Linked DNA regions of Homo sapiens: regions 2, 3, 4, 5, 6 and 7 are each linked to region 1. Evidence: fine-mapped expression QTL. A gene starts in region 1. Each other region holds a variant in brackets. All regions are shown on one strand. Distances are from middle to middle.

Region 1 (4,069 bases):
TTTGCAATGACTCGAGGACGCCCTCTATTGATAGGAAAATCTAGAGCACCCGTGTACTTATGGAACAGGATATAGGGGGAGGGGAGTAAAAAATCATAGAAAGTCACGAGTGGAAAGACCCAAACCAAACAGAAATTATTGATCCTTAACTATTGAGTATATGCTTTGAAGTATGATCAATAAAGTGAGATGCTGCTTTTATAGGGGTCGAATTAAATCTTGGGTTAAGAGAAAAAAATGTAGTCTTTGTTAGCCAAATACTTTGAAAATCAGTATTATGTTTGATTACTTTTTTAAGATGCTTCTTAGTATGTCATGAACTGTATCTAATTATATGAAGTAATTGCAAGATAGTAAATTTTTGCTCTAATAATACTTAGTCCGCAGCATTATCTAAAAATGTCATATAACTTCCTCCCCAAAAGTCATTTCTCCAGGCAACTGTGAAGCTATTATTAAGCGTATTATGGATATACACAGGCTTGGATTATATTGTGGATAGTGAAAGGTGTGTTTACCCCTTAAGTCATCATAGTATGTAACAAGTAAGTAATGAAAAGTTACAGTAAAAACAGATAGGCATCCTTCATTAGGGACCTAGTGGTTTGGGCAATTCAAAATGTGTCTAATAAGTGAGCTGGTGAGACTGAAGGTTTGCCCCTCAATTATCCTAGTCCATTGATTAGCTCATTTAAACATGTGTGGAATATCAGCATGTCCGTGGTTGATAAGAAATTCCTAATTAGAGATTCTGAGTAACATAGCGGGTACAGTTGCCAACTACGATTTGGATGTTAGTGGATTTTAAATGGCAACCCTGTGCTGTTTGGGGAAAGGCAAAGGCGAGGGCGGTATCAAGTGTCTCTCAGCCTTGAGGTCATTCTTGAGATTAGATACCACTTCACACCTACCGATAACAAATTGGAATCTATCATCAGTCTCATAACTGCTTTTCTGTCTCCACTTGGCAGCCTCTTTCTTTGTAGACAATTGTCTTTTTCCTCACTTTCGGACCCATCCGATCATAAAAGGAGAAAGTGAGCTGCCATTGAATTAATCCGTAGAAATTTGTGGAAAATTTAAATAATCTGTAGAAATTTGTGAAAAAGCCACTGAGCAACAACAAATCGTGGCATAATTACACTGCATAAAAACCCACCACTCTCATTAATTACACTGTAACCGAACGTTGAAGTTTGCCCACTCTTAGACCTCTCCTTGCCGCTTTCAGGAAGGGAAATGTCAAACTAGAACACCTGAGCCTCGCACAGCTGCCAGCGAATTCCGGCGGCAGTTCGCGGGTACCTTCCCAGCCCATCCTATCTGCTCCGGACCGCGGGTGACATTCAGATTTCCAACACCGCCCCGAGCTTGCTTTACCAGACACCCTCAAACGACTCGGAACGCGGTTCCGCAGATGTGATTGGCTGAAAGGGGACCTGCCGCGCGGCGCTCTGTAAAAGCGCCTGCTTCCTCCAAGGAGGTGGAGCTGAAGCTGGCAGGGCCAGGGCAGGGAGGGGTAATTAAATTAAAAAAAAAACTTGGAGGGAAGATGAATCGGATCACATTAATTCAAGGAGAGGTCAAAGGCCGGTACCTTTGTAACGCCGGCGAGAGTAAGACTTGCGGTCGCCCATTTCTGTTGGGCGCGAGGAAACAGTAAATCGCGGAAGGGGGTAGAGGGGGAAGGAAAGGGAGCGCGAGGCAGCATGCGGCGCAGGAGAGAGGACTTGGAGTCGATGGACAGGGAACTCGAATTACACTGAGCGGGCGGGGGAGAGGGCCCTCTGGGTCCTGCGATTGGCAGGCTGAGTCGGGCTGACGTGCGGTCACAACCAATGGGGAGGAAGGGAGGGACACGGCGGGGGATTATGGCGTCGTGGATTGGCGGGCACAGGGCGGGGCGGGACGGCAGTGCGGGACTGAGATTGATCGACCGCGGGGGCTGCCGCGCAGAGATATCCGGGCCGCCGGTGGGTGGTCGCTAGGGCTGGGCCAGCCTCTTGGAGGTCCACGCCCGCCGAGCCCACGCTGGCTGGGGCCGGGGTGCCGGCGCGCTCGGGACTCGTCTCAGCAGTCGCTCACGGTCTTTGTGTCTTCTCTTCCGCCCCTTTCCCTGCCTGCCGCCTCCGGCCGCCACGATGCCCCTGCGCCCCGCTGCTGCCGCCGCGGACTGGCTGCGCCGGCTGCGCGCTGCTTGCTGCGGCGGTGGTGGCGCCCCATCTGCTACACGGGCCTGAAGAAGGAAGAAGAGGAAGCGAAGCGCGCCCCCCGGCCCATGCCGCAGCCACGGGCCCAGACCCGCCACGGCGCCCGCGCCGCCGCCCTCGCCGGAGCCCACGAGACCTGCATGGACGGGCATGGGCTTGAGAGCAGCACCTTCCAGCGCCGCCGCTGCCGCCGCCGAGGTTGAGCAGCGCCGCAGCCCCGGGCTCTGCCCCCCGCCGCTGGAGCTGCTGCTGCTGCTGCTGTTCAGCCTCGGGCTGCTCCACGCAGGTAGGACGGGAGCGCGCGAGGGGAGCCAGCCCCGGGGCCTAGGGCTTTGTTCCCAAATAGCCCCAGGTCTCGAAGGCGCTCGCCGGGGCGGAAGGGCGGCGTGGCGCAACGGGAAAGGCCTCCCGAGCCCCTGACACGCACCTCTGTCGGGCTCCGGGCCACAGTAACGCAGCCACCCACCGGGCGGCCGCCGGGCGCAGAGACGAGCCTTCTCTCCACCCTCCCCGCCTTCGGCTCGGACCGCTGACAAATCTCCCCTCCGACAGCCGCTTATCAAACATTTAGCGGGCGGGGGCCGCGCGCCCGAGACAAATGTTCCGGATGCTTTATTGCTCTCTGCGCTGGTGTTTACTGAAAGTCAGGCTCGGATCAGGTTTCCGCCGTCGCAGCCGCCTCGGAGGGAGACAAGGAGCCTTGTGCTGCTTTTCTGGAGTTGGGGGTGGCGGCGAGGCGAAGGAAGTACACCAGATGGAAAGATTTTTACCAGATTTTGCAAACCTGGGAGTTAATCTCGAAGTAACGTCAACTTTTTTGAGCAGGGATTTCTTTCGTTTTGGCAAAAGCTGCGTTTGTTCAGCGATCAGCCTCCCGGGAAAAGCTCGTGTTTTGTGACTAGCCGGGTGTCTTCGGGCTCCGTGAGGGGTTGACAGATAACCATGCTGCCTTCTGGAGGTCGGCGCTTCCCCAGCCTTGAGGCGTATGTTCCAAGGGAAGTAAGCCTGCAAATGAGCCTTCTACCATGTGATACCTATTTTTCTTTTTAAAAAATCGTTTCATGAAAATCCAGGACGCTCTTCACACTATTTTTTTCTAGGAATTTGCCTAGACAAAGAATTTTTTTTAATGCTAAGGTTGAAAGGGTCATTTTCCTTTAGTCTTGAGAACAAACAGCATTAGATAAGTTTCTTTTCCTTCCAGACCTTTTTTGTCCTGTATATATGAGACACTTCACAACGTTCTGGTCTGGAGAATCCTGAACTTCGATGCCACCCAACTGTGCGGAGTAATTTTTACTTATTAAACCATACCCGCCATGCTAAAAATCAGGGAGGTCTTTTAAGTAATGGGGGGGAAAATGTGACATCTGAGGAGACTTAATTTACTTTGCGTAGCTTTGCATTATGATGTAATAGCTGCTTTTTAACACCGACAATTAGGGAAAAGACGGCTTAATAAAAAAGTGTAATAGAAAGTTTTAGGATGATTACGGCTTTCAATTAGTAACCTAAGAACCTTAGAAAATAGTGTCAATCTGCATGTAGTTACGTGGAAAATTTTTCTTGACATGTTAAAAGATATATTCAGGAGTGTTTGTGCGAAAAATATGTGTCCATAATACCAAAATGTAAGTTTCATGAAATGGAAATTGTGCTAGGTGGGATTGTGTCCCCCTTGGCTGCTTGGATATTGTTTCCCATAGTTGCCATAGGATCCTGTGACAGAATTGGAATGTGGTCCCTGAAGGTTTCTTTGCTAGCCCGTGAAAGGCATACTAAGTTGGCTTAAAGGTTTAGAAAAGTAGGGTGTCTTCGTTCAAGAATTTGGAATGTGAAGCTCCCAGTATCTTCATGTG
Region 2 (4,069 bases), 22 kb after region 1:
GAAAGCACTTTATTTTTTATATATTAAATATTTATGTGTGTGCTTGGTTGATATGTATAGTACATATACACAGACATCCATATGCAGCGTTTCCTTTGAAGGTGACCAGTTGTTTGTAGCTATTCTTGGCTGTACCTTCCTGCCCTTTCCCATTGCTACTGATTTGCCACGGTGTGCAGCTTTTACTCGCCACCTTCCGGTGGAGCTGCCTCGTTCCTTTGAACTATGCCCTCACCCTTCTGCCCTCACTTGATTTGAAAGGGTCGTTAACTCTCCCTTACAGGTGCTTTGACTCTTAAACGCTGATCTTAAGAAGCTCTCTTCATCTAAGAGCTGTTACTTTTTCAGAAGGGGGGGTATTATTGGTATTCTGATTACTCTCAATTCTAATTGTTATATATTTGAGCCCATACAGTGTATTAGGTTGAACCATAGAAACTGCTATTCTCGTAGGTCAAAAGGGTCTAGTGATGGAAGTTTTGTAGATAAGTACCAGGCATCTCAGTAACTCCTAGACTTTTTCTCATCCCATGCCCCGTTTTAAATTGTCAGTTTTCCCTCTGACTCTTCTGTGTTAAAACATGAAACTATAAATTTAGTAATTATCATGCCTTGCTCTTTTTAATCTATATGACTGATGCAAGCCCCTCTTCTTAACCGTTTCTTGGCTTTGAGCCCAGAAACACAGCTCTCCCTGTCTCCAACTCCAGTAAGCCCTCCTCAGCCTCACCTTACGAATCCAAAGAACTGGGGTTTGTTAGGTTCTTTCTCTAATGTAGAGGCCCAGATCCCATCACAAAGTTTTTCATTCTTCCTTGTCCACCATGATCTTCATCACAGTCTTTGATATGTCTGCATGCAAAGTGGAACAGAGTTGGGCGGCAATGACAGAAGAGCTTCCTTGGCCTGACTCGGTGTGCGGCCACTTCGGCACTGCTTAATCCAGATATTCTTGTTAACTAAGCATTGTGCTTCCCAGGTGGTCTGAAGTCAGGTACTCTCTCTCTCAACACCTGTAGTTGAATATGATTTGGTCAGTTGCTCGTTGTAACTTGGAGAAATTCCTATAAAGTAAGATCTCCTTGCCTCTTCCATCCATTGTTGGCACCCCCTTGCAAAAGGAAAAGAACAGCAAAAGTCAGGAGCAGTAATCTGAGAAAGTTAACTCCAGGATAGGTAGGTTTCTATTGTTATAGCTAGATGTAAATCTTTAGTTCCAAGAAGTGATAGAGTTTCTGCTTTAATAATTTGTTGATAAGTTTACATAAACAGAAATAAAAGATACTATCTTTACCGTAGTAGTTCAGGCCAAGATTATGCTTAGTTTTAGTTCTCCAGGTAGTTACTTTTGCCATGTCCTATTGATCAGTGACACTGCCAGAGGCCCATACCGGCAAGAGGAAGAGGACGTCATTTTGTAAAGTTTAACTTCTTAGCGAACTGATGTGCCACCCAGTCACAGAGTGGAGTTGTGAATTCATGTAGAGGTGGCAAACCTCTACCTTGTGTTGATGAGAGAATAATCTTGGGCAGTCTGGGAAAATAAGGAAGGCATCTCCTTCTTACTCATGGAGATTCAACTATAGAGAGTTGAAACCTAAACCCGCCTTCCTTTTATAGAAGCTGGACTAGAGACGGACTGACCATCAGCTCTGAACTGTGGCTTTTTTTGTTCACCTATGATGCCATGTACCAAATTCAGAAGCTATCGTTAATAATTTGTTTTATAATTGAGTAGTACAAGCGAGGAAAAAATACGGAGGATAACCACTATTTTTGTGCAAATAATATGAAAGTGAAGTAAAAGCAATAGAAGAAATTTCTATAGGATCTGGGTTTAGAGTGTGTATCATTAATAAATATACCTTTGCTCTTTTCAGGGAAAATAACAACCACCCTTACTGATAGTTGGGAAAAGAAGATTGGGTTATTTTGCCATATCATTTAGCTGGAAGTGACATTTAAAAGCACCCTGCATCACTAGTAATAGTGTATTTTGCTATTCTGCCCTTGTAATCGGTGTCCCTGTAAAACAATCCCCACAGATTACTTTCAGAAATAGATGTATTTCTCTACGTAAGGGCCAGGTTTATTTTCTCCTTTTTTGAGATTTCTAGAAAAAATGCTGCTTGCACATGTTGGTTCTTGAAACCTTAGCTAGAAGAATTTCAGGTCATACCAACATGTGGATAGGCTATAGCTGTTCAGAGGTCTCCTGGGGGAGCTTAAAACGGGGGAAACACTGGTTTTCACAGATGCTCCACATGGCTGTCTTTAAAAGACTCAAAACTTTTTTTTGTCCTCTTTGTTATGCTTGGAAGCTCCCCCCCCCCC[A/C]ACAGTGTGTCGAGTCTTTGCAAAGAAACCTTTAGATGTGGTTCATAGATATATGAATACGTATCTGTGTAAAACAGTGAGTGTGCAGTGTGTAAATACTTTAAATTATTATGCTAGAAAAATAAAGTTACATACCTTGCTGTGGAATGTCTGTTCTGTGATTATAGGGACACCTGCTGGAAGAACTGAGAGCTGCAGAAGAAAGGGAGTCGGGGGAGGGGGAATTGTATAAAATCCCTAAAGGTTACTGATAAGTCATGCCACCTGCCCACAAATTCGCTGATTTTCAAAACTATAGCATTACTGTCATTTTTTTTCTTTTGAAATTTTAAGCAGTTACAAATCCGTATCAGTGAGATTGGTCCACTAGTATTGTCCCAAAGTTCTGTCTTTAGTAACAGTTTTGGTCCCTTGAAGACATACAGCCTGCACTCTAGTTCTTTTTAAGGTGATGTGAACAGTAACGACTTCCTCCTGGTGGGGAGGATTTGGGAAGGCAGGATTTTCTGGCTTTGAAAACAAATCCTCACTTCTTGGGTTTTAAAAAGAGACATCAAGAGATCACAAGTTGGTCTTTGTTCAAGAAACACACCAAAGGGTAGAAAAGTTAGGAAAATAACTGAAACAAAAGGCACAGAGAAGCACTGTTACTTGTATTAGGTAGAATACTAAATGGATCAGATTCTGACTGGGATAAACATACATGTAATCATTTCTTCTTTTTTTTTTTTTTTCTTTTGGAGACAGGGTCTCACTCTGTCACCCAGGCCAGAGTGCAGTGGTGCAGTCTCAGCTCACTACAGCCTCAACTTCCAGGGTTCAAGTGATCCCCCCGAGTCGCTGGGGCTACAAGTGCATGCTACCATCCCCAGCTAATTTTTGTATTTTTTGTAGAGACTGAAGGCAGGGTTTCACCATGTTGCCCAGGCTGGTCTCAGACTCCTGGACTCAAGCAATCCGCCTGCTTCAGCCTCCCAAAGTGCTGGGATTACAGGCATGAGCCACCACACCTGGCCATAATCGTTTCTTAAAGAAAAAAGCTTAACCATTGCAGTTGACTATTTACATGTAGCAGTTCAGAGCAAAAAAAAAAAAAAAAAGACAATCATATCAGCTGAACCACATAAAATAGGATGAAATGACATAGTCACTGAGTACCCAGTGATGTGTCTGTGCTGAAAGAATGCAGATAATCTATAGCAGAACGAAATGTGCTATAGACTATTTGACTTTTATGCTTAAAGTCAAAAATAATTCTTTACCATTCTGTCTTCATTCCCAGAACTCCAGCTCTTTGGGGACTGAAACGTCAACTCCAAAATCCCAACAGCGACATCAACCCTAAGAGTCCTGTTATCTGATTTATTTTTTATCTTGTTTATTTTTAATTTTGTAGCATTGGCAGTATTCTATTGTCTGGAACTAGCTGGGATAACAGTCTTGGATTGCTGCTGTCCTTTCTGAGCAAAGATACCTTGCTGCAGATTTTCTCCCTGTTCTATTTGTATGTGAACCAATGTCTCCCCCACAGAGAAAGTAATCAGGATGTTCAAGGAGCAGTTTCAAAGTTCTTTATTATTTCACTACCTAACCATATTGTTACCTAAACCTAAACCATATTGTTTCTTTCTGCTTCTATCCCTTTTCTGTATGTCTTCCAAATGGACAAGTCACATGAAAGCAATTGTTATTATTTAGATGGTATTTTCCTTTAAATTTACTGCTCTTTGGCTGG
Region 3 (4,069 bases), 44 kb before region 1:
TTAATTTCCTTGCCTCATCTGTTGAAGATGTCAGAACCCTTGCCAGAGAGTCCGACGATCCCAGTTGTTCACACAGGGTTGTTATATGAACAAATACAAACATATTGTGTTTAAGCTATTCTATATTTTTGAAGTTTCATAGCCACAGCAATTACTGTTCCCCTAAATGATACCATATCTAAGTGTGAACTTGACCCCATATTTCCTTGAGTGGTTAAGAAATGGACTGTGGAGCCACGCTGCTGGAGTTCACATCTCAGCTTCTTACTTCTGTAGTGTGACCTTGGGAAAATTACTTACCTTGTGTGGCACAATTTCTTCGCCTATAAAATGAAGACTAATAATCATCTCTATTAAAAAGTGTTGTTACAAAGATTAAATTAGGTAATGCATGAAAAACTTTTATAATAGTTCCTGGCACACAGTAAGTGGCCACTAGCTAATAACTATAATTATTATCATTATTCTAAGGTTTCTTCCAGTTAAAATTTGTTTATGATTTTATAAAATTTCTACACCACTATTTAAAAGAACATGGTAGTTCTCTTGCCTTTGTTTCATGGTTTTCTCTTTTACATCCCCTCCCCAACAGCGCCCTTTTCAAAAGAGAATCTATACAGTCATTTGTAGGACACACCCCTTTTTATTACATTATGGTAATATCAGAGTAAAGTTGTGTAATTCATAAGTACCCACTCTCAAGTTACTTCCATTTATCATAGTTAACACAACAATCTGACTTTCATAATTATCTAAAACTTCATTTACTTTGTCCCCTAATCCTTCACTAGAGGACTAAAAAAAATAAAAAGTGAATTTTTTCCTTGAGGGGGACGTCCTATATATTTGGATTCTTCTAATGTAATCCCTATTTCCAGGTCAAAACTGTTCTCTTCATGACCACTCTAACCTTGGCTAAGGAAATGGCTCCACACTTAGAAGAGCTCTCTATGCTTGCCTCTCTTTTTTCTAGCATGTCTTGAGAAAAATGTTCAGTGGGGGATTTTCTACTTCTTTGCATCCCTTTCCCTCTCTTGAATCCAAGGGCCTTAAGCTTTTTCTACTTATCCATTATGTTCAATGTTCTTATTTACTCTCTCAGCGTTTTTTTTATGTTTTTAGACTCCTGCCTCCTCATATGGGCTACTTCTATTCCAGAGTGGAGATATCCAACCCATCTGTATTTTACAGAGAGAGTTTTCAACCTGGAGGCAAGTATAACACAACATATAATACTTTTAAAAAGTCTCAGCCAGGCACAGTGGCTCAAACCTGTAATTCCAGCACTTTGGGAGGCCAAGACAGATGAATCACTTGAGGTCAGGAGTTTGAAACTAGTCTGATCAACATGGCAAAACCCCACCTCTCCCAAAAATACAAAAATTGGCCAGGTGTGGTGGTGCACACCTATAGTCCCAGCTACTCGGGAGGCTGAGGCATGAGAATCACTTGAGCCTGAGAGCCAGAGGTTGCAATTAGCCAAGATAGTGCCACTGCACTCCAGCCTGGGCGACAGAAAAAGACTGTCTCAAAAAAATAAATAAATAAAAACAGATAAAGTATTTCTCACTTATATTTTGTT[A/G]TATTATTACAATTTGTAGAGATGTGGACTCACTATTTTGTCCAGGCAGGTCTCGAACTTCTGTCCTCAAATGATCCTCCTGCCTCAGCCTCCCAAGGTGTTGGGATTACAGGCATGAGCCACCATGCCCAGCCCATATGTTACTATTCATGAGTTGGTTCCTTCCCTTTGTTTGAACAGTCAAACTGGTTAGCAGTAAAATGATGGAGAATCTATTTCTGTTACTACTCAGAACATTTGAAGCAGGAAAAATGTGATGACAATTCTAGGTCAATAGCTTTAAAAACATTAGTTTTAAAAGAACAAAAATTACCTCTGTTGTGAGAGGGAAATTAGTGCAGCAAAAAGAATAAGGACACAAATAATCATGCTACACGTCTGATTCTGCAAAAGGGGTGACCAAAATTTCCAAAAGAACTTAGCACTTGTTGTGCCCTCTGGTTCCTTCCTAGCCCCTCTTGATGTCATGCTTCTGATTTGGCTTTGAATCCAGATTTAGCAACCTTTTCCACTTATTAACCATGTCATTTTCTTTCAACCATTCTTTGTAAAATGTGAGGAGTGTCTACTTCTCTAGGTTGCGAGGAGGATAAAAAATGACTGTGTGTTTAGAATATTCTAACAGCTAATCTGTCACATGATAAGTACTCAATAATGCAGCATGTTGGTTCTCTCCATTTTCCTGATCTTCATCCGTTTGTAGATAATTAAAACGATGAGTCAATGGAGCACAGTGGTGCATGCCTGTAATCCCAGCGCTTTTGGAGGCCAAGGCAGGTGGATTGCTTGAGCTCAGGAGTTCAAGACTAGCCTGGGCAACATAGTGAAAACCCTGCCTCTACTAAAAATATAAAAATTAGCTGTGGGTGGTGGTGCATGCCTGTAATCCTAGCTACTTGGGAGGCTGAGGTAGGAGGATTGATGACCAGGACGTCGAAGCTGCAGTGAGCCAAGATTGCACCACTGCATTCTAGCCTGGGCAACAGGGGCCCTGTTCTCAGAAAAAAACAAAACAAAACGAAAAAAAAAAAACCTAAGACACGGCTAGGAATGATCAAAAAAGATAGAGCATATCTTAGTATAAGTAAGAAAATTAAACTATTCTTGCCATTTGTTTGTGAGGATCATAAAACAGGAGACATGCCTACCATATGAGAAAATGGACTGCTTGCAGGTATCTGCTTTGATAAGTGCAGAGCTTTTGTTAGGAAATCAAATCCCACATTAATGGGCTTGCCCTCTTTCTAGGTCACATAGGGAAGTATAGAATTGGGCCATGGAAGTTTTTCTATTCTTTTAAATTATTGAAAATTTGTGCATTTATCTTTCAAAGACAAAACAGAATATACTAAGAAATGCCAGACAAGTAGAAAATAAATGGTACTGCAAGATTTTTTCTCTGTATTGACAACTGAACGGAAATTGAAATAAAACAGGGAGGTAGACAGTTTAGCCAAATGATATGAGCATGATTAATGTTCTAAGCGATGTCTAACCAAGTCAAAGCATGTATTTTACTATTTGTTAACACCCCCAGGACCCTTGGTCCAGTTAGTTTTGACACATTCCAGCCAAAATCCTTAAAAATAAACAAAATCCCATGGCCTGAGCTAGAAACAACATATTTAGGAGTTTTTAGTTTTGTGTTACTATATGGTAAAAAAAGAGTTAGGTAAGCAATAAGGTAAAGGAGTTAATCACTTATTTCTTTGTATATTTTATACCAATCTTTATCCCTAAGTTTACTTATAGAGATATATATAAAATGGAATCATACAGTTATGTTACTGAAAATAGCCTCAAAATCTACAGTAGAAGTTCTAAATCAATTAGTATCCAACCTGCTCATGTAGCTAATGCCTTTCATTGTCCACCCACTCTAGTATCTAATAATCCAAATGGTGATAAATAAAGAAAAGTAGGTAATTTTTTTTATCCATGAGACTGTCTTTTTCAATTCCATTAATATCAATAAATATGTATTGCATTCTCATCATGTACAAGACAATAGTATTAGGTTCTACATTTCATTTATTCAAATCAACCATAGTGCTAGTGAGACCAAGTTTGTAAAATCAAGCTCTCTAATGGTAGAGCTAATATATGTCTATTAGCTGATCACAGAGTGCTTTTCTAATTCTGGAACTGAAAATTAAAGGCAGTCATTCCTTAGAGAAAAAGAAGGCCAAGCAAGGGATTATGGCTCCATCAGATAATATCATTAAGTTATCTCCTTACCACACCTGATAGAGAAATTCAGATTGCTAATTAGCTGCCTATAATGCTGAGCTTTTTAAAGCTTCAGGAGATGAAAAAATGCTTCTGATTGATTATTACATTCTGACAGTGGCCCATGTGGCAGAAACTAGGCACTTCATTTCTAACATTTAAAAAGCAGTTGCTATTCTATTGTCTTGTGCTGAGCCATCTTACTTATTCTTATGCTGATACTTCATAAATCTTGCATCCTTCCTTGGAGCTTTCCCT
Region 4 (4,069 bases), 270 kb before region 1:
GATTGCTGTGTCTTTCATTCTGAAGCAGCATAACTTAGAGGATATAAGCCTGACCTCCAGAATCAGAAAGTGTGACTTCAATTCCTGACCTGTTCTGTGGCCTTGAGCAAGGTATTTAATCTTTCTGGGCCTCAATTACTTCATGCATAAAATGGGGATAATAATAGCATCTATTTCATAGGGTTGTTGTGAGGATTAAATTAGTAATTACATGTAAAACTTAGAGCACATTGCCTGGAACATAATAAGCTCTACATGAGGTATGATAAAGAAATACAGTTTCTTCCAAGAATACAAATGCTTGATCTTCCATTGATTTGAATGAAATACCAGCCATAAATTCTATGAACAAACATAGTTTGGAAAGCCAGAAACAGGTGAAAATGTAAAAACTGAAAATACGTAATAAATTCCCAAGTGCCGTTCTCAATATGTGACTTAGACGATAAACTATCTTCAGCATTGCCCTGAAGAGTCTTTCATAATTCTAGTATTCTGTCTCTCTCTCTCATTTTCAGTAGCTGTAAACTGTTACTTCAAACCTTCACTATTATACTTCATTTGCATAAATATCTCCAGAGTTAATTCCTTGACAAAGTTTCCTGGGAAATGGCTGAAGACAAGACCATATTTACAACCAGGAGGCAAGTACCAAGCAGTCCAATCTGTGGAGTGTTTTATTCCCTTGCAAACACACCGCCTTGGTCAGTCAGAACTTGTCCTCTGTTCTTATCTGTTTTCCCTTAACATTGACCGCCCTCACCAACTGCAAAAAGAACACCTTGAAGAGATTAATTATTAATTTCAAAAAAGTCACTTCAAACACTTCAAAAGTCAACATAGAAGGGGGAAAACCCCCAATAACTGATTGTACAGTCACACAACATTTTATTTATTCTTTTCTTCAGTCTTGGAAACCAAAATGTCAATTCAATTTTATGACATCGGAGACATAAATGGATATGAGTTTAAGATGTGCTGGTGTTAAAATATTTATTGCTTAAATCTGACAGTCATATTTATAGTCTTATCTCCAAAGACCTGTGAAGTGTATATTATTAAATGGAATCTATATAGAGACATTTTGTTCCCAGAATATATAATTCGCCTATTGAGTTTCTTTGCACATACCTGTTTTAAGCTAAAGAATTTCAATGGCTTCTGGATATTCAACTATTTTTTTAATTCCTGTGGAAATCAGCACACAATAAATCACTACAATTGACGGTTTGGGCATTTCACAGAGGTGAATCTCTAGCACTACCTATGGAACTGAAGATTTTCAACACAAGATACCAAACCTGTTAGAAATTATGTTTTCCATTTTTTCAAACAAAATTTCAGGTCACTTTGGCCCACATGCTCCTTCAAGTAGCTGTAAAAATGATTTAAAGATTATAAGCTAAAAATATGTATAGTTTGGGCATTTGGAATCTTTCCAAGTGCCAAAGAATTTTGTGTTTAACAAATATTTTAACTCCTTAAAATATACAAGATATTACCCTAGCCTCCGTTAAAGCAAGCTAATAAAAATAGCTAACATTTAGAAGGTGCTCACTTTGTGCAGGGCACTATTCTAAGTACATTCCATGGAATAACTCATTTAATTTGCCCCGTAACTCTATGAACAACATGATATTAATTCCCCATTTAAAATATAAGAAAGCAAAACCCAGAGACAAGAATAATTCACATATCTTGTAAAGGTAAAATCGGGACACAAAAACAGAATGTGACTCTAAAACAGCCTTCTCCAAAGGAAATAGCCTTGGATTTGGCCCTTGAGGATCTTTCAGTAGAGTGGAAGAAAGGAAGAGAAAAGAATAAAATAGATAAGTCATCATAGAGTAAGCATAAAATGTAGAAGGAGAAGAGTTTTAAGGAGTTGAAATAAAGGAGGAAGTACCCCCATTTTCATCAAAACTGAAAAGTTTGATTAAGGAAAGTGGCATATTAATTGGCATATTAGAGATGGTTTATATTTAAGGAGTTGGAGCTGGTTCAAGGCATTCTCAGTAGACGGAAAAGTAAAAGAAGAGGCACAGAGA[C/CAG]GGTACCGTGAGGCACGTTGCAGGGAAGAGCAAGTAGTTCATTTTAGTAAAGCATGGGATACAGAAAGAGCAGCAGTGGTCTAGGTAAATCTGAAAAATAAAATGAGCTTTAAAATTTTTCAAAAATATTAAATGCTAGATCAAAGAGTTTTGGAACTTAGCAATAGGGAAGTTTAAAGAATTTTTGAATGAGTAAAATGATTGAAGCATCGTTGGGAAAATATTTATCTAGCGTTGGCATTTCATTAAATTTATCATCTATTTGACTCCTATTTCCAAACATTTAAGATTAAATGTCTATACTAAAACAGAAAATAAAAATGAGAAAAATGGAGGTGAGATGTACTTTTAGTAAGACTGTAGTAAGACCAAGGAAGAGCCAGTTATTATAATGGCTATCAAGTTAAAACTAAGTGAGTGGTTTGCAGGATGGACTGGGCAGAGGAGAGCTCATGGTCATTGGTTCCATTCCTTAGCCACACTTTAGAATCACCAGGGCCTCTTTCAATATCTCAACACTCAGAACCCATCCCAGACCAATTACATCAGAATCTCTGAGATTCCAACTCAGATGTCAATATTTTTTAAAGCTCCCAGAGAGATTTTATTGTGCTGCCAAGATTGAGAACTATTTTTCTAGCAAGTTAAGTGATGAAGATTTGGCCTTCAGGGCTGATAGTAAGAATGGAAAAGAGGGAAGAAATCTGAAAAATAATATGAAGGAAAAAATCAATATCTCTTCTTGAAAGTGCTGAGAGAATTGTTCCCACAGCTCAACTCATTTTAAAAACATCCTTTTTCACATGAGATTAGACAAGTTTGGAAATTTGGCATTCTTAATCAGAACACAGGTCTCCACTGATACCAAGGGAAAATAATTGCATGGGATGGGAGAAGATGTCACTTATGTGGCAGGCCTCACTCTCCTCATTTTACTTTACAATTATGAACACCTTTCCTATCTTCTTAATGACACATTTTAAGAACATCAATGCAACAAAACATAGCAAAGAACTCACTAAAGATTCCCTGAGATGATAAACTAACATTATGATTTCATGGTATAATCTTTTGTGGAGAAAAAGGAATGCTTCTACACTGTTGGCAGGAGTGTAAATTAGTTCAACCATTGTGGAAGACAGTGTGGTGATTCCTCAAAGATCTAGAGGCAGAAATACCATTTGACCCAGCAATCCCATTGCTGGGTATATACACAAAGGAATATAAAACCTTCTATTATAAAGATACATGCATGTGTATGTTAATTGCTGCACTATTCACAATAGCAAAGACATAGAATTAACCTAAATGCCCATCAATATAGACTGTATAAAGAAAATGTGATCTATATACACCATGGAATACTATGCAGCCATAAAAAGGAATGAGATCATGTCTTTTACAAGGACATGGATGGAGCTGGAAGCCATTATCCTCAGCAAACTAACACAGGAACAGAAAACCAAACACCACATTTCTCACTTATAAGTGGGAGCTGGACAATGAGAACACATGGACACATGGAGGGGAATAACATACACTGGGGCCTATTGGTGGTGTTGGGGGAGGGGGAGCATCAGGAAGAATGGTTAATGGACGCTGGACTTAATACCTAAGTGATGGGATGATATGTGCAGCAAACCACCATGACGCACATTTACCTCTGTAACAAACCTGCGCATCCTGCACATGTACCCTGGAACTTAAAATAAAAGTTACAAAAAAAAGTATAAATAAAGAAATAAAATAAGTAAAAACCCCTTATGAAGTTGTTTCTGGCATTTCAACAGGTTGAACATCAAATTCTAGATCCATTGGTTGTGCTCATTTCTCTGATCACAGAATTAATTATTTTGATACCTTTCTTTAAATAACAGCATCATCAAAAGCTGCATATTTTGGCAATCACTTATAGATTCAATTATTGGTTACCTTTGATTGAACGAGTAACCAGAATGACAACAGCCAAGGTTGTTTTGTTCCTATTGCCTTTGTGAGCCTTTCCTGGGTTTTACATGGTG
Region 5 (4,069 bases), 110 kb before region 1:
AGCCCTAAGGCCTTGAGTGAACATAGGTGGTAGCCATGTAGTGGTTACAGCAGGCCATGGATGACATCCAGTGCTGTACTGGCTTCAGGTCTAAATCAGCACAGTCCTGGTGGTTGTGGCCACAGGAATGCCTGAGTCTACCCACACCTAGTTCCAGGCAGCTCAGAACAGAGAGAGAGAGAGAGAGAGAAAGAAAGACACTCTGTTTTTTGGGGAGAAAGTAAAGGAAAAAAACAAGAGTATCTACCTGGTAATTCAGAGAACTCATCTAGATCTTATTCAAGACTACTAAGGCAGTATTTCTACAAGTTTCTAAGAACCACAGCATTGTTGGATGGGCCAAGTTCCTTCAAATACCTGGAAAGCCTTCCTAAAAATGCAAGCCCAGATTGCAAAACGACAATAAATGCCTAACTCTTTAATGATGCCCAGACACTGATGAACATCTACAAACATCAAGACCATCCAGGAAAAGGAGGGGCCAAGATGGCTGACTAGAAACAGCTATGGTCAGAGGTGCCTACCAAGAAGAATGAAAACAGTGAATGAATCCTGCAGCAACTAAGGTATCCAGGTTCTCTCACTGAGACTGACTTTGCAGTTGGCAAGACCCATGGAGAGTGAGGAAAAGCAGGGCGGAGTAACAGCACACCCAGGAGCTGCACAGTGCAAGGGGAGCTCCCACTCCCAGCCAAGGGAGGTAGTGAGTGATTGTGCTACCCCACCTGGGAAACCACACTTTTTCCATGCATCCATGCAACCCACAAATCAGGAGATCCCCTTGTAAGCCCACAGAGCTGTGAAGATTCTCAGTGGCTGCTTAGCTGGAGACTGCCTAAGACTACCGAGTTCCTGGAGGGAAGGGCAGCCACTATCACTGCAGCTGCCTGCTGCCTGCTGCCTAAGATGACTGAGCTCCCAGAGGGAGGGATGGCTACTATCACTGAAGCTCCAGTCTACCATTCTCACCTGCTGGTAATGGGGAGACTGGGTGGTTTGGACCAAAGAGGAATTCCCCACAATGCAGCACAGCGGCTGTGGCAGATCATGGAGAGACTGTCTCTTTAGGCCAGACCCGTACTCATCGCTCCTCACCAGGTAGAGCCTCCCTGTGGGAATTTCAGCAACCCCATCCAGGGGTTTACAAAGAGAATGCTGATCTCCCTGGGATGGAGCCCCTGGGGGCAAGGGTGGCCACAGTCTCCATGGATCAGCGAACTTGGTCTTTTCCCTTCTTGACTCTGAGGAATCTGGGCAGTCCAGATGAATGGGATTCCCCCCAGCACAGCACACCCTTTCACAAAGAGGCAGCCAGAGTGCTTTGTTAAGCAGGTTCCTGATCCTGTGCCTCCCAGCTGGGTGAGACTCCCCAACAGGGGTCACCAAAAACATTATACAGGACTGTTCCTGCTGGCATCAGGTCAGTGCCCCTCTGGGATGAAACCACTGCTCAAGGAAATCAGAGAGGACAAAAAACAAATAAAAAAAATTCCATGCTCATGAATAAGAAGAATCAATATCGTGAAAATGGTCATACTGCCCAGAGTAATTTATAGATTCAATGCTGTTCTCATTAAATACCATTGACATTCTTCACAAAATTAGACAAAACTACTTTTAAGTTCATATGGAACCAAAAGAGAGCCCATATAGCCAAGACAATCCTAAGGAAAAAGGACAAAGCTGGAGACATCATGCTATCTGACTTCAAACTATACTGCAAGGCTGTGGTAACTAAAACAGCATCATACTGGTATAAAAACAGACACATAGAACAATGGAACACCAATGGAACAGAGTAGAGAACTTAGAAATCAGACCCCCCATCTACAACCATCTGACCTTCAACAAACCTGACAGAAACAGCAATGGGGAAAAGACTCCATATTTAACAAATGATGCTGGGAGAATGGCCATATGCAGAAAATTGAAACTGGACCCCTTTCTTACACCTTACCCAAAAAGTAACTCAAGATGAATTAAAGACTTAAATGTAAAACCTAAAACTATAAAAACCCTAGAAGAAAATCTATGCAATACCATTCAGGACATAGACATGGGCAAAATTTCATGATGAAAAATGTCAAAAGCAATTGCAACAAATGCAAAAATTGACGTATGGGATCTAATTAAACTAAAGAGCTTCTGCACAGCAAAAGAAACTATCATCAGAGTGAACAACCTACAGAATGGGAGAAAATTTTTGCAATCTATCCATCTGACAAAGGTCTAGTATCCAGAATCTACAAAGAACTTCAACAAACTTGTAAGAAGAAAACAAACAACCTCATTAAAAAGTGAACAAAGGACATGATCAAACCCTTCTCAAAAGAAGACATTTAGGCAGCCAACAAACATATGAAAAAAAAGCTCAACATCACTGATCATTAGAGAAATGCAAATCAAAACCACAATGAAATATCATCTCATGCCAGTCAGAATGGTGATTATAAAAAGTCAAGAAACAACAGGTGCTGACGAGGCTGTGGAGAAATA[G/A]GTATACTTTTACAATGTTGGTGGGAATGTAAATTAGTTCAATCATTGTGGAAGACAGTGTGACAATTCCTCAAAGACCTAGAATAGTATATCTGGTGAAAATATCCTTCAAGCATGACGGAGAAACACAAACAAAAGCTGAGGAATTTTATCAACACTGGACCTGTCATACAAGAAATGCTAAAGGCAGTTCTTTAATCTGAAAGAAAATTACATTAATTGGAAATAAGAAATCATCCAAAGGTATAAAACTCACTGGCACACAGAAAACACACAATATTATATCACTGTACGTGTGTTGTGTGAACCACATTTATTTTGAGTAGAAAGGCTAAACAATGAGCCAATCAAAAATAATAACTACAACAACTTTTTATGACGAAGACAAAGACAGTAGAATAACACATAAAGAGAAACAACAAAAAGTTAAAAAGCAGGGGGATGAAGTTAAAATGTAGAATTTTTATTGGTTTTCTTTTTGCTTGTTTGTTTGTTTATGCAATCAGCGTTGTCATCAGTTTTAAATAATGGGTTATAAGAGAGTAATTGCAAGCCTCACAGTAACCTCACATCAAAAACACAACAAATACAAAAAAAATTAAAAAGCAAGGAATTAAATTATACCACCACATTCACTTTTACTAAAAAAAGACAGGAAGGAAGAAAAGACCATAAAACAACCAGAAAAAGAAATAACAAAATGGCAGGATAAGTCTTTGCTCATCAATAACAACATTGAATGCAAATGGGCTAACTTTTCAATTGAAAGGCACGAGGGGCTGAATGGATGAAAAAGCAAGACCCAATGTTCTATTGCCTACAAGTAAAACATATCACCTATAAAGATACACATAGACTGAAAATAAAGGAATGGAAAAAGGTATTCCATGGCAATGGAAACCAAAAAAGAGCAGGAGTAGCTCTTCTTATACCAGACAAAACAGATTTCAAGACAATAATTGTAAGATACAAAGAAGATCATTATATAATGATAAAAAGGTCAATTCAGCAAGAGGATATAACAACTGTAAACATATATACACCTAATGTTGGAGAACTCAGATACATAAAGCAAATATTATTAGAGCTAAAGAGAGATATAGACCTAAACTAATAATAGCTAGAGACTTCAACACCTCCCTTTCAGCATTGGGAAGACCTTTCAGACTGAAAATCAACAAGGAAAAATCGAATTCCATCTGCATTATAGAACAAATGGCTCTAACAGATATTTACAGAACATTTAAGACAATGGTTACAGAATACATATTCTTTTCCTTTGCACATAGATCATTCTCAAGGATAGATCACATGTTAGGTCACAAAACAAGTCTTAAAACATTCAAAACAATTCAAATAATATCAGGCATTTTTCCTGACCACAATGGAATAAAACCAGAAATCAATACAAGAGGAATTTTGCAAACTATGCAAACACATGGAAATTAAACAACGTGCTTCTAAGTGACCAGTGGGTCAATGAAGAAATTAACAAGGAAATTGAAAAAATTTCTTGAAACAAATTATAATGGAAACGTAACATACCAAAACCTATGGGATACAGCAAAACCAG
Region 6 (4,069 bases), 73 kb before region 1:
ATTGAAAAAAAGATCAACAGGAAAGACATTAGGTCCTGTCACTTGAAACTTAGCATTTATTATTCCCTAATTTTGCACTCCACCTCTCCTGTCTTGACTACTTCTGTAACTGACTTGACTGATGACCAGAAATGAAGTGTAAGCAAATTCTACTGGAAGAATAATATAGCCAAGGTTCAGAGAGAGAGCAGAGTGTTATTTGGAAACCACTCTGTTCCATTCATGACAGCATGAAAATTAATCATTAATGAGCTATTCTTTTATTTGCAAAGATGATGCCACTGATTCAAGACCAGGCATTACCTCTGAATTAGTTTTTTGTAAGTAGGGAATGACTGTACAGAATCTTTCACAATATTGCTCATTCCTTTATTATCAGCAAGTTACTATCAGCAAGTTGCAGTTTGGCTGCCTAGGATAAGTGAAGTCTGTAACTATATACCAGTACATTAAGAATCTTTATTTTTAATGTAAAGATGGCTTTAATAAAGTACTTGAAGGAAGCAGTTAAGATTAAGGTAGATTCACTGCCAGGAGGAAGCAAGTAGGAGACCATTGGAAGGAATATTAACAATTATTAAGGCAGAACAATCATATGTAGGACTTGAAAATAAATGGCCACAACCCAGACACTACAATTACATTGTTCTGATGGGTGCCAAGACTCTAAATTTTAACAATTCAAATGAAGGTGGGTTCTGAGATAACATTCTAAGAAACAGTGGTTAAAGGATGAGTAAAGAAAAAAGGAAGACACTGATGTTCACATTTTTGTTTTTATTTTGTCTGCATGCAATTCTTGACCACTGATAGTCTCTATTGATTGCCAAGCACTAAAGATAGTAAATAAATAAACTTGGAATATATGCATAAACATCAACTGACTTTGATTTGTAAATTTAAGCAAAAAAACTATAATTATTTAATTTCTTTGTCTTTTCTTTGAAATACCAGTTTTGCATTACAATTATGTTCTCAAAATATGGTATATTAAAGCATATTGACATTTAAGGGACTTAAATTGTTTAATAACATGATCATTTCCAAATACCATCTCTTACCTGTACTACCTTTGATTTATAATCACCACAGAGCAGCCAAAGTGACTGTAGCAAGCTTTCATTAGGGTGCCACCAAAATATCTTGTTCTTTGGATGAGAATAAATTATAAGCTTTGCCAATATTGTGTTGTACATGGAGAAGTGGATTTCATAGGCTAAGCAATGAGACTGTCATGTTTTCTCAAAAATTGGGAGACTGTATACACATGAGACAGCGAAAGGGATAACTATATGGGCAAAAGTTTATTGCATAGAAGATATCTAAGGTTCTCTCTCCTCCAAAATCCTTTGATCGTAAACCTCCATGAATGGAAGATATAACCAAAGAAACTCTAACTCTTTCAGTACAACATCTGAGAGTAATTCACCCTTAGAATTCTAATTCAGAAAACATAGTGGCATAATATATTAAAGTGAGGGTATTTCAAGATCTTAATCATGGTTTGCCAAAACATAAATGAGTATACATATCAAAAGTTATTTTCAGCAGTTAGCAAAAAGACATTATTTGGCCAGTGAAATGAAATCAAGACACTCAAGCCAACCATTTTGTTTCTCCCCAAAATTCCAACTTGCCCAATGCCTGAAGACAAGCTGACAAACCTCAATTTGTAGAAAAAGATTGATCAGGAAGGT[C/T]CCTGTCCCTGTAGGTGAGATATATAGAAAGAGATATCTCCTAAGCAACCCTAGGTAATAATGTCTGCTTTTCCATATCTCAAAGGATTGATCAAAATGAATGAAGTATTAGCACTGTTTTTTTTTTTTTTTTTTTGAGATGTCTTGCTCAGTTTCCCAGGCTGGAGTGCAGTGGCACAATCTCGGCTCACTGCAATCTCTGCCTCCCAGGTTCAAGTGATTCTCCTGCCTCAGCCTCCCGAGTAGCTGGGACTAAAGATGTGTGCCACCATTCCCAGCTAATTTTTTTTTTTTTTGTATTTTTAGTAGAGAGGGGGTTTCACCATGTTAGATAGGATGGTCTCGATCTCCTGACCTTGTGATATGCCTGCCTCGGCCTCCCAAAGTGCTGGGATTACAGGTGTGAGCCACCATACCACCAGTATTAGCACTTTAAACACTTGTGTTATTGTTACATGGCCTTTATTTAAATGTGTAAAATGCCTAAAGCCTTTTTCTAAAACTAACTCCCAAAAAGTACATTCTTCGTAAGCAATAAAATGCAGATTGTTGTTGTTGTTTGGTTTTGAAGGGGAAAATGGTGAATAGGAGGCAGGACTAACTTGCAGCTCCCACTCTGACAGACACAGCAGCATGTGGAGACCACATCATGAACTTTTGCTCCAAGAACTACTGCAGAAACATACCAGGAAAGCCAAGAGAATCCACAGACCCTTTGAAGGAGGCAGATTGCTTCTTCAGGCCTATGGGACAACCAAAGAATTGCAAGCCTGCTTGCTTTCCCAGCTGGGAAGCTTGCAGCCTGGGGAAAGTTCTCAGCCATGCTCACTGGCTTCCTGGAAATAAACTTGGTGCTGCTGGTGGTGTGTGGTGGGAGTGAGACCAACATGTCAGGCTGTGGGCTGTATGGGGGCTGGGTGAGGCCTGTGGCTGCCAACTTTCCCCCACTTCCTTGGAAACCCGTGTGACACAACAGAGGCAGCCATGATCCCCCTGAGAACATGACTCAGTTAGCCTGGTAACCACACCTCCATTCCCCACAGCAGCTGCAGGAGAGCCTATACCCAAGGCGAGTCTGAGCTCACCTAACCCTGCTCACACCTCATGGTCTTTCTCTACCTGCCCTGGTAGCTGAAGACAAGGGACATAATCTCTTGGGGGCTCTATGGCCCCACCCACCACCTGATTCTCCCTATACTACCACAGCTGATGTACTCTTGAAAATGCCACCTCCTAGCTGGAGGCCAACCAACACAAAATCAGCACACTTAACAAAAATGCAACCAAGGACCCTCACAGAGTCTGCTTCACTCCCCTGCTACCTTCATTGAAGCAGGGGCTGGTATCCATGACTGAGAGACCTGAAGATGAATCATATCACAGGACATCTTGCAGACACTGCCCAGTACCAGTCTGGAGCCCCATAGCTCCACTGAGTGGCCAGATCCAGAAAAGAAATAACAATCTCTGCAGTTTGGCCCTCAGGAAGCCCCATCCCTAGAGGGAATGGGAGAGCACCACATCAAAGGAACACCCATGGGACAAAAGAATCTGAACAGCAGCTTTGGAGCCCCAGATCTTCCCTCTGACAAAGTCTACCCAAATGATAAGGAACCAGAAAAACAATTCTAGTAATATGACAAATCTAGCTACTTAACTCCCCTAAAAGATCACACTAATTCACCAGCAATAGATCCAAACCAAGAAACCTCTGAATTGCCAGAAAAAGAATTCAGAAGGTCGACTATTAAGCCAATCAAGGAGGCACCAAAGAAAGGTGAAGTTCAACCTAAAGAAATTTTTAAAAAAATGATACAGGATATAAATGGAAAAATCTCCAGTGAAATAGATAGCATAAATAAAAAACAATCACAACTTTTAGAAATAAAGGACACAAAGAATTGTATTGGAAAGTGCACTGGAAAGTCTCAGCAATAGGATCAAACAAGTAGAAGAAAGGACTTCAGAGCTCAAAGACAAGACTTTAAAATTAACCCAATGCCACAAAGACAAAGAAAAAAGAATTTTAAAAAATGAACAAAGCCTCCAATGAGTTTGGGATCATGTTAAACAACCAAATCTAAGAATAATTGGTGTTCCCGAGGAAGAAGAGAAATCTAAAAGTTTGGAAAATATATTTGAGGGAATAATCGATGAAAACTTCCCTGGTCTTGCTAGAGATCTAGACCTCCAAATACAAGAAGCTCAAAGAACACCTGGGAAATTCATCACAAAAAGATCATCACCTAGGCACATAGTCATCAGGTTATCTAAAGTCAAGACAAAGGAAAGAATTTTAAGAGCTGTGAGGCAAAAGCATCAGGTAACCTATAAAGGAAAACCAATCAGATTAACAGCAGATTTCTCAGCAG
Region 7 (4,069 bases), 100 kb after region 1:
TACCGCCTAATTTCTGCATCACTAAATCCTTTAATATTCTCCCGAGGAATAGTCCGTGGTCTTCCACGTTTCTTTGGCCTTTTCCCTTCTGAGATGGAATCACTATCAGATCCAGAGTATCTCCTACTTCTACTGCGCCTCCCTTCACTTCCATTGAAACTAATCTGGAATTGGAAAATATTTACCCAACCTTAGTGTAAAAACAGCTTGTATCTTAAGAGCAAAAACCATTATAAAAGATGGTCGGAATCTTAAAAATGTTATTAAATGTATCAAAAACATTCCATAAACAAAATTAAAGAGCAAACAGAGAAAAATATATACCTCTGGTGGATATTTTGATTTAAAAGGTAATCAGACATTATATCAAAAGCCTCCAAAAGTTATTCTACTGACGCAGCAACATAACCTCTAGGCATTTTTCCTGAGGAGATCAGAACTGTGAAGAAACATTGATCAATAAAGTAATTTACATCATAAAAGAAAAATGTGGCTGAGTGCAGCAGCTCATGCCTGTAATCCCAGCATGACTGGGAGGCCAAGGCAGGAAGATAACTTGAGCCCAGGAGTTCAAGACCAGCTTAGGCAACATAGTGAGACCTTGTCTCTACCAAAAATTTAAAATATTAGCCAGGTATTTTTGTAGCATGCACCCGTAGTTCCAGCTACATGAGAGGCTGAGGTGGGAGGATCATTTGACCCCAGGAAGCTGAGGCTGCAGTGAGCCATGACCATACCATGGCATTTCAGCCTGAGCAACACAGTGAGATCCTGTCTCAAAAACAAAAAGCAAATAATCTAAATATTCATCAAAGAGAGACCAGACAAATCTATACGATAGAATGCTGAGACACCATTAAAAATGGGGTTGTAGAATAATTAACATTCATGACATACTGTCAAAAAGAAGAAAAAGTTCCAAATTAATACAACTCCAACTTAATTTGGCAAATGATAATGAATTTTTAAAAATTAGAATGATGTACACTGTGATAATGTTATCAGTCCTATCTCTGGATGAACAGATTGATTAGCTGTCTTTTTTTCCGTTCTGCTTAATATCCACATATTGCTATTCTAACTAGACAAATCAGATATTTGAAAGAAAAAAATGCCAGTTGAACCCACATAAAAGGCTATTTGTAACATCCATTAATTTTAATAAGATACATCAAAACATATATTCTGTAAGTCTTGGGAGTTTTTCCAAAGCCTTGGCACATATTCCGAACCTCTAATATGCTGAAAGTTAAATGAAGTAAAAAATGGTATTTAGACCTTTTTTTTCTAACCTCCCTTGATCCTTTCACAAGATCTAATGCAATGCTGCATTCTCACACACTCTAAAACAAAACTACTTAGGGGTTTGGAGAAATAAACAGAAACAAGAAATAACATGCATGGTTACTTTCAGGCCAAAAGCATTATTTTTGGCTCTACTTCTGGCTGTTATGTAGAAACTTGGTAGGGGCACTGCTCCTACTCTAACAACAAATCTGATGTACAAAATCATAATTTTTCTGTTTAACATCAGAGAGATGAAATCACACGGCAACCTACACATCTAAATGTAAGGATATACAGGAGATTACAAAAAGAGAAAAAGAGGACTTGAACAGTGGCTCATTTGTGAAGAACACAGGTGACAGAAATCAAGTACCATACAAGCAGGTAAGAGGAGATCAGCTAAAATCTGCTAATGGCTGAGTGTACGCTATTGTGAGATCACAGGACCTAACAGCCAAAACTCGGAGGACCTGCACCCACTCTCAAGCACTTTGCCACGAACTTCCACCAGGTGCTCATGAGAAGGAAGACTGGAGAAAACTTTCCTCCATGGTACAGCCTTGGAGAAAGTGAGCAGTCACCTTTGTGGAAACAGGAAGGAAGCCTTGCCAGACCTTTCCCATCTGCTCAACTGAGGGAACAGAATAAGATCTAATACGGTTGCAAGAAAAGAAAAAACAAAAAGCTCTACCCTTCGGGGAATGGTAGCAGGGCAGGGACTAGAGTGGGGCAAGCCCCTCATTTGCCCCAGGCTTAAAATTTAAGGAAGCACGAAAAAACTCAGCAATCAAGACAAAAAATCTTATATCCTAAAAACCAAAGGATACTAGAAAAAGAAATTAGTCTTAGAATTTTTTTCCTTTTTGGCAATATAGCTTGGCATGGCACTATTACAGTTATTCAAAATTTTGGTATTTGTTTACTTAGGCCACTGAATAAACACCAACAAATTTTTAAAAATTAAAATTACATAAAATATGCTTTCTGAACATGACAGAATTAAACTACCAATGATTAACAAACATAGTTGAAAAATTTCCTAAATATCTGAACATTTTAAAACATACTTCTAAAAAAACCTGTGGGTCAAAGATAAGTCATATGGGAAATTTTAAAATGTTTTTAAATTAAGGAAAATATAAAAATAGATTTGGAAGATTCAG[A/G]AAAAGTAACGCTTAAAGAAAAATTTGTAGCATTAAATGCCGATATTAGAAAAGAGAGATTACATTTCTATATCTAAGCTTGCACCTTAAGAAACTGAATAAAAGAGGCCAGGTGCAGTGGCTCGTGCTATAGTCCCAACATTTTGGTAGGCCAAGGCAGATGGATCACTTAAGCCCAGAAGTTCCAGACCAGCCTGGACAACATGGTAAAACTCCATCTCTACAAAAAGAATACAAAAATCAGCTGGGTGTGGTGGGACACACCTGTAGTCCCAGCTATTTGGGAGGCTGAAGTGGGAGGATCATCTGAGGCCGGGAGGTTAAGGTTGCAGTGAGCCAGAATTGTGCCACTGCACTCCAGCCTTGGCAATAGAGCAAGATGCTGTCACCAAAGAAAAAAGAAAAGAAAAGAAAGAAAACAGCAAATTAAATCAAAAGCAGAAAGGAAGAAATAATAAATTGTGGAAACTCATGAAATTAAAAACACACACACACACAAAAATCAATGAAACCAGGAGCAGGTTCTTTGAAAAGATGAATAAAAGAGGAAGAAACACTTCTCAACTCATTTCATGAGGCAAACATTATCAAATCAAGGCCATTACAAGAAAAGAAAACTATGGACTGATACCTCGTAGAAACAAACAAAATCAGCCCAGGTTGAATACTCTTACTTTATAGAAATATCTTTAAAATTGCAAAATCACCTGTTTTGCACAATTTCTCATTCTTGGGAGCATATAAATTTCTTCAAGTTCCTTTTGTCTTTCTTCTTCTTCTAATCGTCTTCTTTGATCTTCTGGAATAATTTCCTCCCAATTCTTTGAATTTCTTTCAGGTTCCAACTCAATGTCATCCTCATCCATATTTGAGAAGTTGGCAACCTGATAAATTTCAGAATTTTAAGAGTAACTGTTACAGAAAAATTGATCCCTAAAAGTTTTTTTTAAGGGGAAGAACTGGCATGCTCCTTAGGATAATGAACATGGCTGTGGACTAAACCAAATATAACTTCTAAACAACCTAGATTCATTTCTTCATTAGGGCAAAGCAGATCAAACCAAATGACATCTAATAATCCTCTAGGAATGATTTTATTTTGCCCTACTGCTCAACAAAATTAGTAGCATCACAGAACTAAGAGCAGTTAACAGAACAACAAAAAAGTAATTTATACTATTAACATGCTAAATAATCTGCAGAAATTCTCAGACCAGTCCACCTATCAAGTATTGTAGAACAATCTAATATCATTTTTATGGTCACAAAAACACTATCTAAAGAGCTACTGGCAGAGACATAGAGCTCTTTGAGAGCACACTAATTTCTGTGAGGATTACATAAGATAGCACATTTAAGGTACTATGCAAGGTCTGGTATACAGAAAGCACCCATTAAGGCTAACTATCACAGCCGGGCGAAGTGGCTCACGCCTGTGATTCCAGAAACCTTCACCTCTTAACCAGGATTACTCAACATTCTGTCTTATCTCCCCCTGCTATAGCTCTTTCCTCACTACAGTCAATCAACCACAAAGTAGTCAGAATGATTCATTAAAATTATAAAAGTTTTTTATTCACTGTGTGGGGTACACTGTAGGTGTTCCATAAATATTTGTC

Alleles and levels. Positions count from the first base shown, and alleles are read on the strand shown. Sizes are in standard deviations (SD) of each study's normalised expression. Not every link is listed here.
For the expression in B cells of the gene that starts at base 1,953 in region 1, A is the high allele of the variant in region 2 and C is the other (large effect, 0.88 SD a copy in Fairfax 2012).
As copies of T replace C in region 6, the expression in monocytes after LPS of the gene that starts at base 1,953 in region 1 goes up (large effect, 2.2 SD a copy in Fairfax 2014).

Evidence for each region. PIP is the estimated chance that this variant, and not a neighbour inherited with it, causes the effect.
Region 2: its variant is fine-mapped to the expression of RGMB in B cells (Fairfax 2012, PIP 0.95).
Region 3: its variant is fine-mapped to the expression of RGMB in whole blood (INTERVAL, PIP above 0.99).
Region 4: its variant is fine-mapped to the expression of RGMB in whole blood (INTERVAL, PIP above 0.99).
Region 5: its variant is fine-mapped to the expression of RGMB in whole blood (INTERVAL, PIP above 0.99).
Region 6: its variant is fine-mapped to the expression of RGMB in monocytes after LPS (Fairfax 2014, PIP 0.95).
Region 7: its variant is fine-mapped to the expression of RGMB in whole blood (INTERVAL, PIP above 0.99).

What each region holds. Positions count from the first base shown.
Region 1 is chr5:98,771,711-98,775,779 of GRCh38, forward strand. RGMB (repulsive guidance molecule BMP co-receptor b) reads left to right here and starts at 1,953. Exons shown (of 3, transcript NM_001366508.1): 1 at 1,953-2,496. The coding sequence starts at 2,361. RGMB-AS1 (RGMB antisense RNA 1) reads right to left here and starts at 1,374. Exons shown (of 2, transcript NR_033932.1): 1 at 912-1,374. RefSeq lists enhancers at 1,530-1,579, 2,315-2,814, 3,070-3,189 and a silencer at 1,800-2,429.
Region 2 is chr5:98,794,014-98,798,082 of GRCh38, forward strand. It overlaps RGMB (repulsive guidance molecule BMP co-receptor b), which reads left to right. Exons shown (of 3, transcript NM_001366508.1): 3 at 1-2,481. Among named protein-coding and RNA genes, the nearest start is that of RGMB, 22 kb to the left of the region's middle. The variant A/C (reference allele first, on the strand shown) is at 2,335.
Region 3 is chr5:98,727,953-98,732,021 of GRCh38, forward strand. No RefSeq gene overlaps it. Among named protein-coding and RNA genes, the nearest start is that of RGMB-AS1, 43 kb to the right of the region's middle. The variant A/G (reference allele first, on the strand shown) is at 1,583.
Region 4 is chr5:98,503,974-98,508,042 of GRCh38, forward strand. No RefSeq gene overlaps it. Among named protein-coding and RNA genes, the nearest start is that of RGMB-AS1, 270 kb to the right of the region's middle. The variant C/CAG (reference allele first, on the strand shown) is at 2,049.
Region 5 is chr5:98,663,733-98,667,801 of GRCh38, forward strand. No RefSeq gene overlaps it. Among named protein-coding and RNA genes, the nearest start is that of RGMB-AS1, 110 kb to the right of the region's middle. The variant G/A (reference allele first, on the strand shown) is at 2,497.
Region 6 is chr5:98,698,252-98,702,320 of GRCh38, forward strand. No RefSeq gene overlaps it. Among named protein-coding and RNA genes, the nearest start is that of RGMB-AS1, 73 kb to the right of the region's middle. The variant C/T (reference allele first, on the strand shown) is at 1,698.
Region 7 is chr5:98,876,395-98,880,463 of GRCh38, forward strand. It overlaps CHD1 (chromodomain helicase DNA binding protein 1), which reads right to left. Exons shown (of 36, transcript NM_001270.4): 23 at 3,158-3,334; 24 at 4-164. Among named protein-coding and RNA genes, the nearest start is that of CHD1-DT, 50 kb to the right of the region's middle. The variant A/G (reference allele first, on the strand shown) is at 2,451.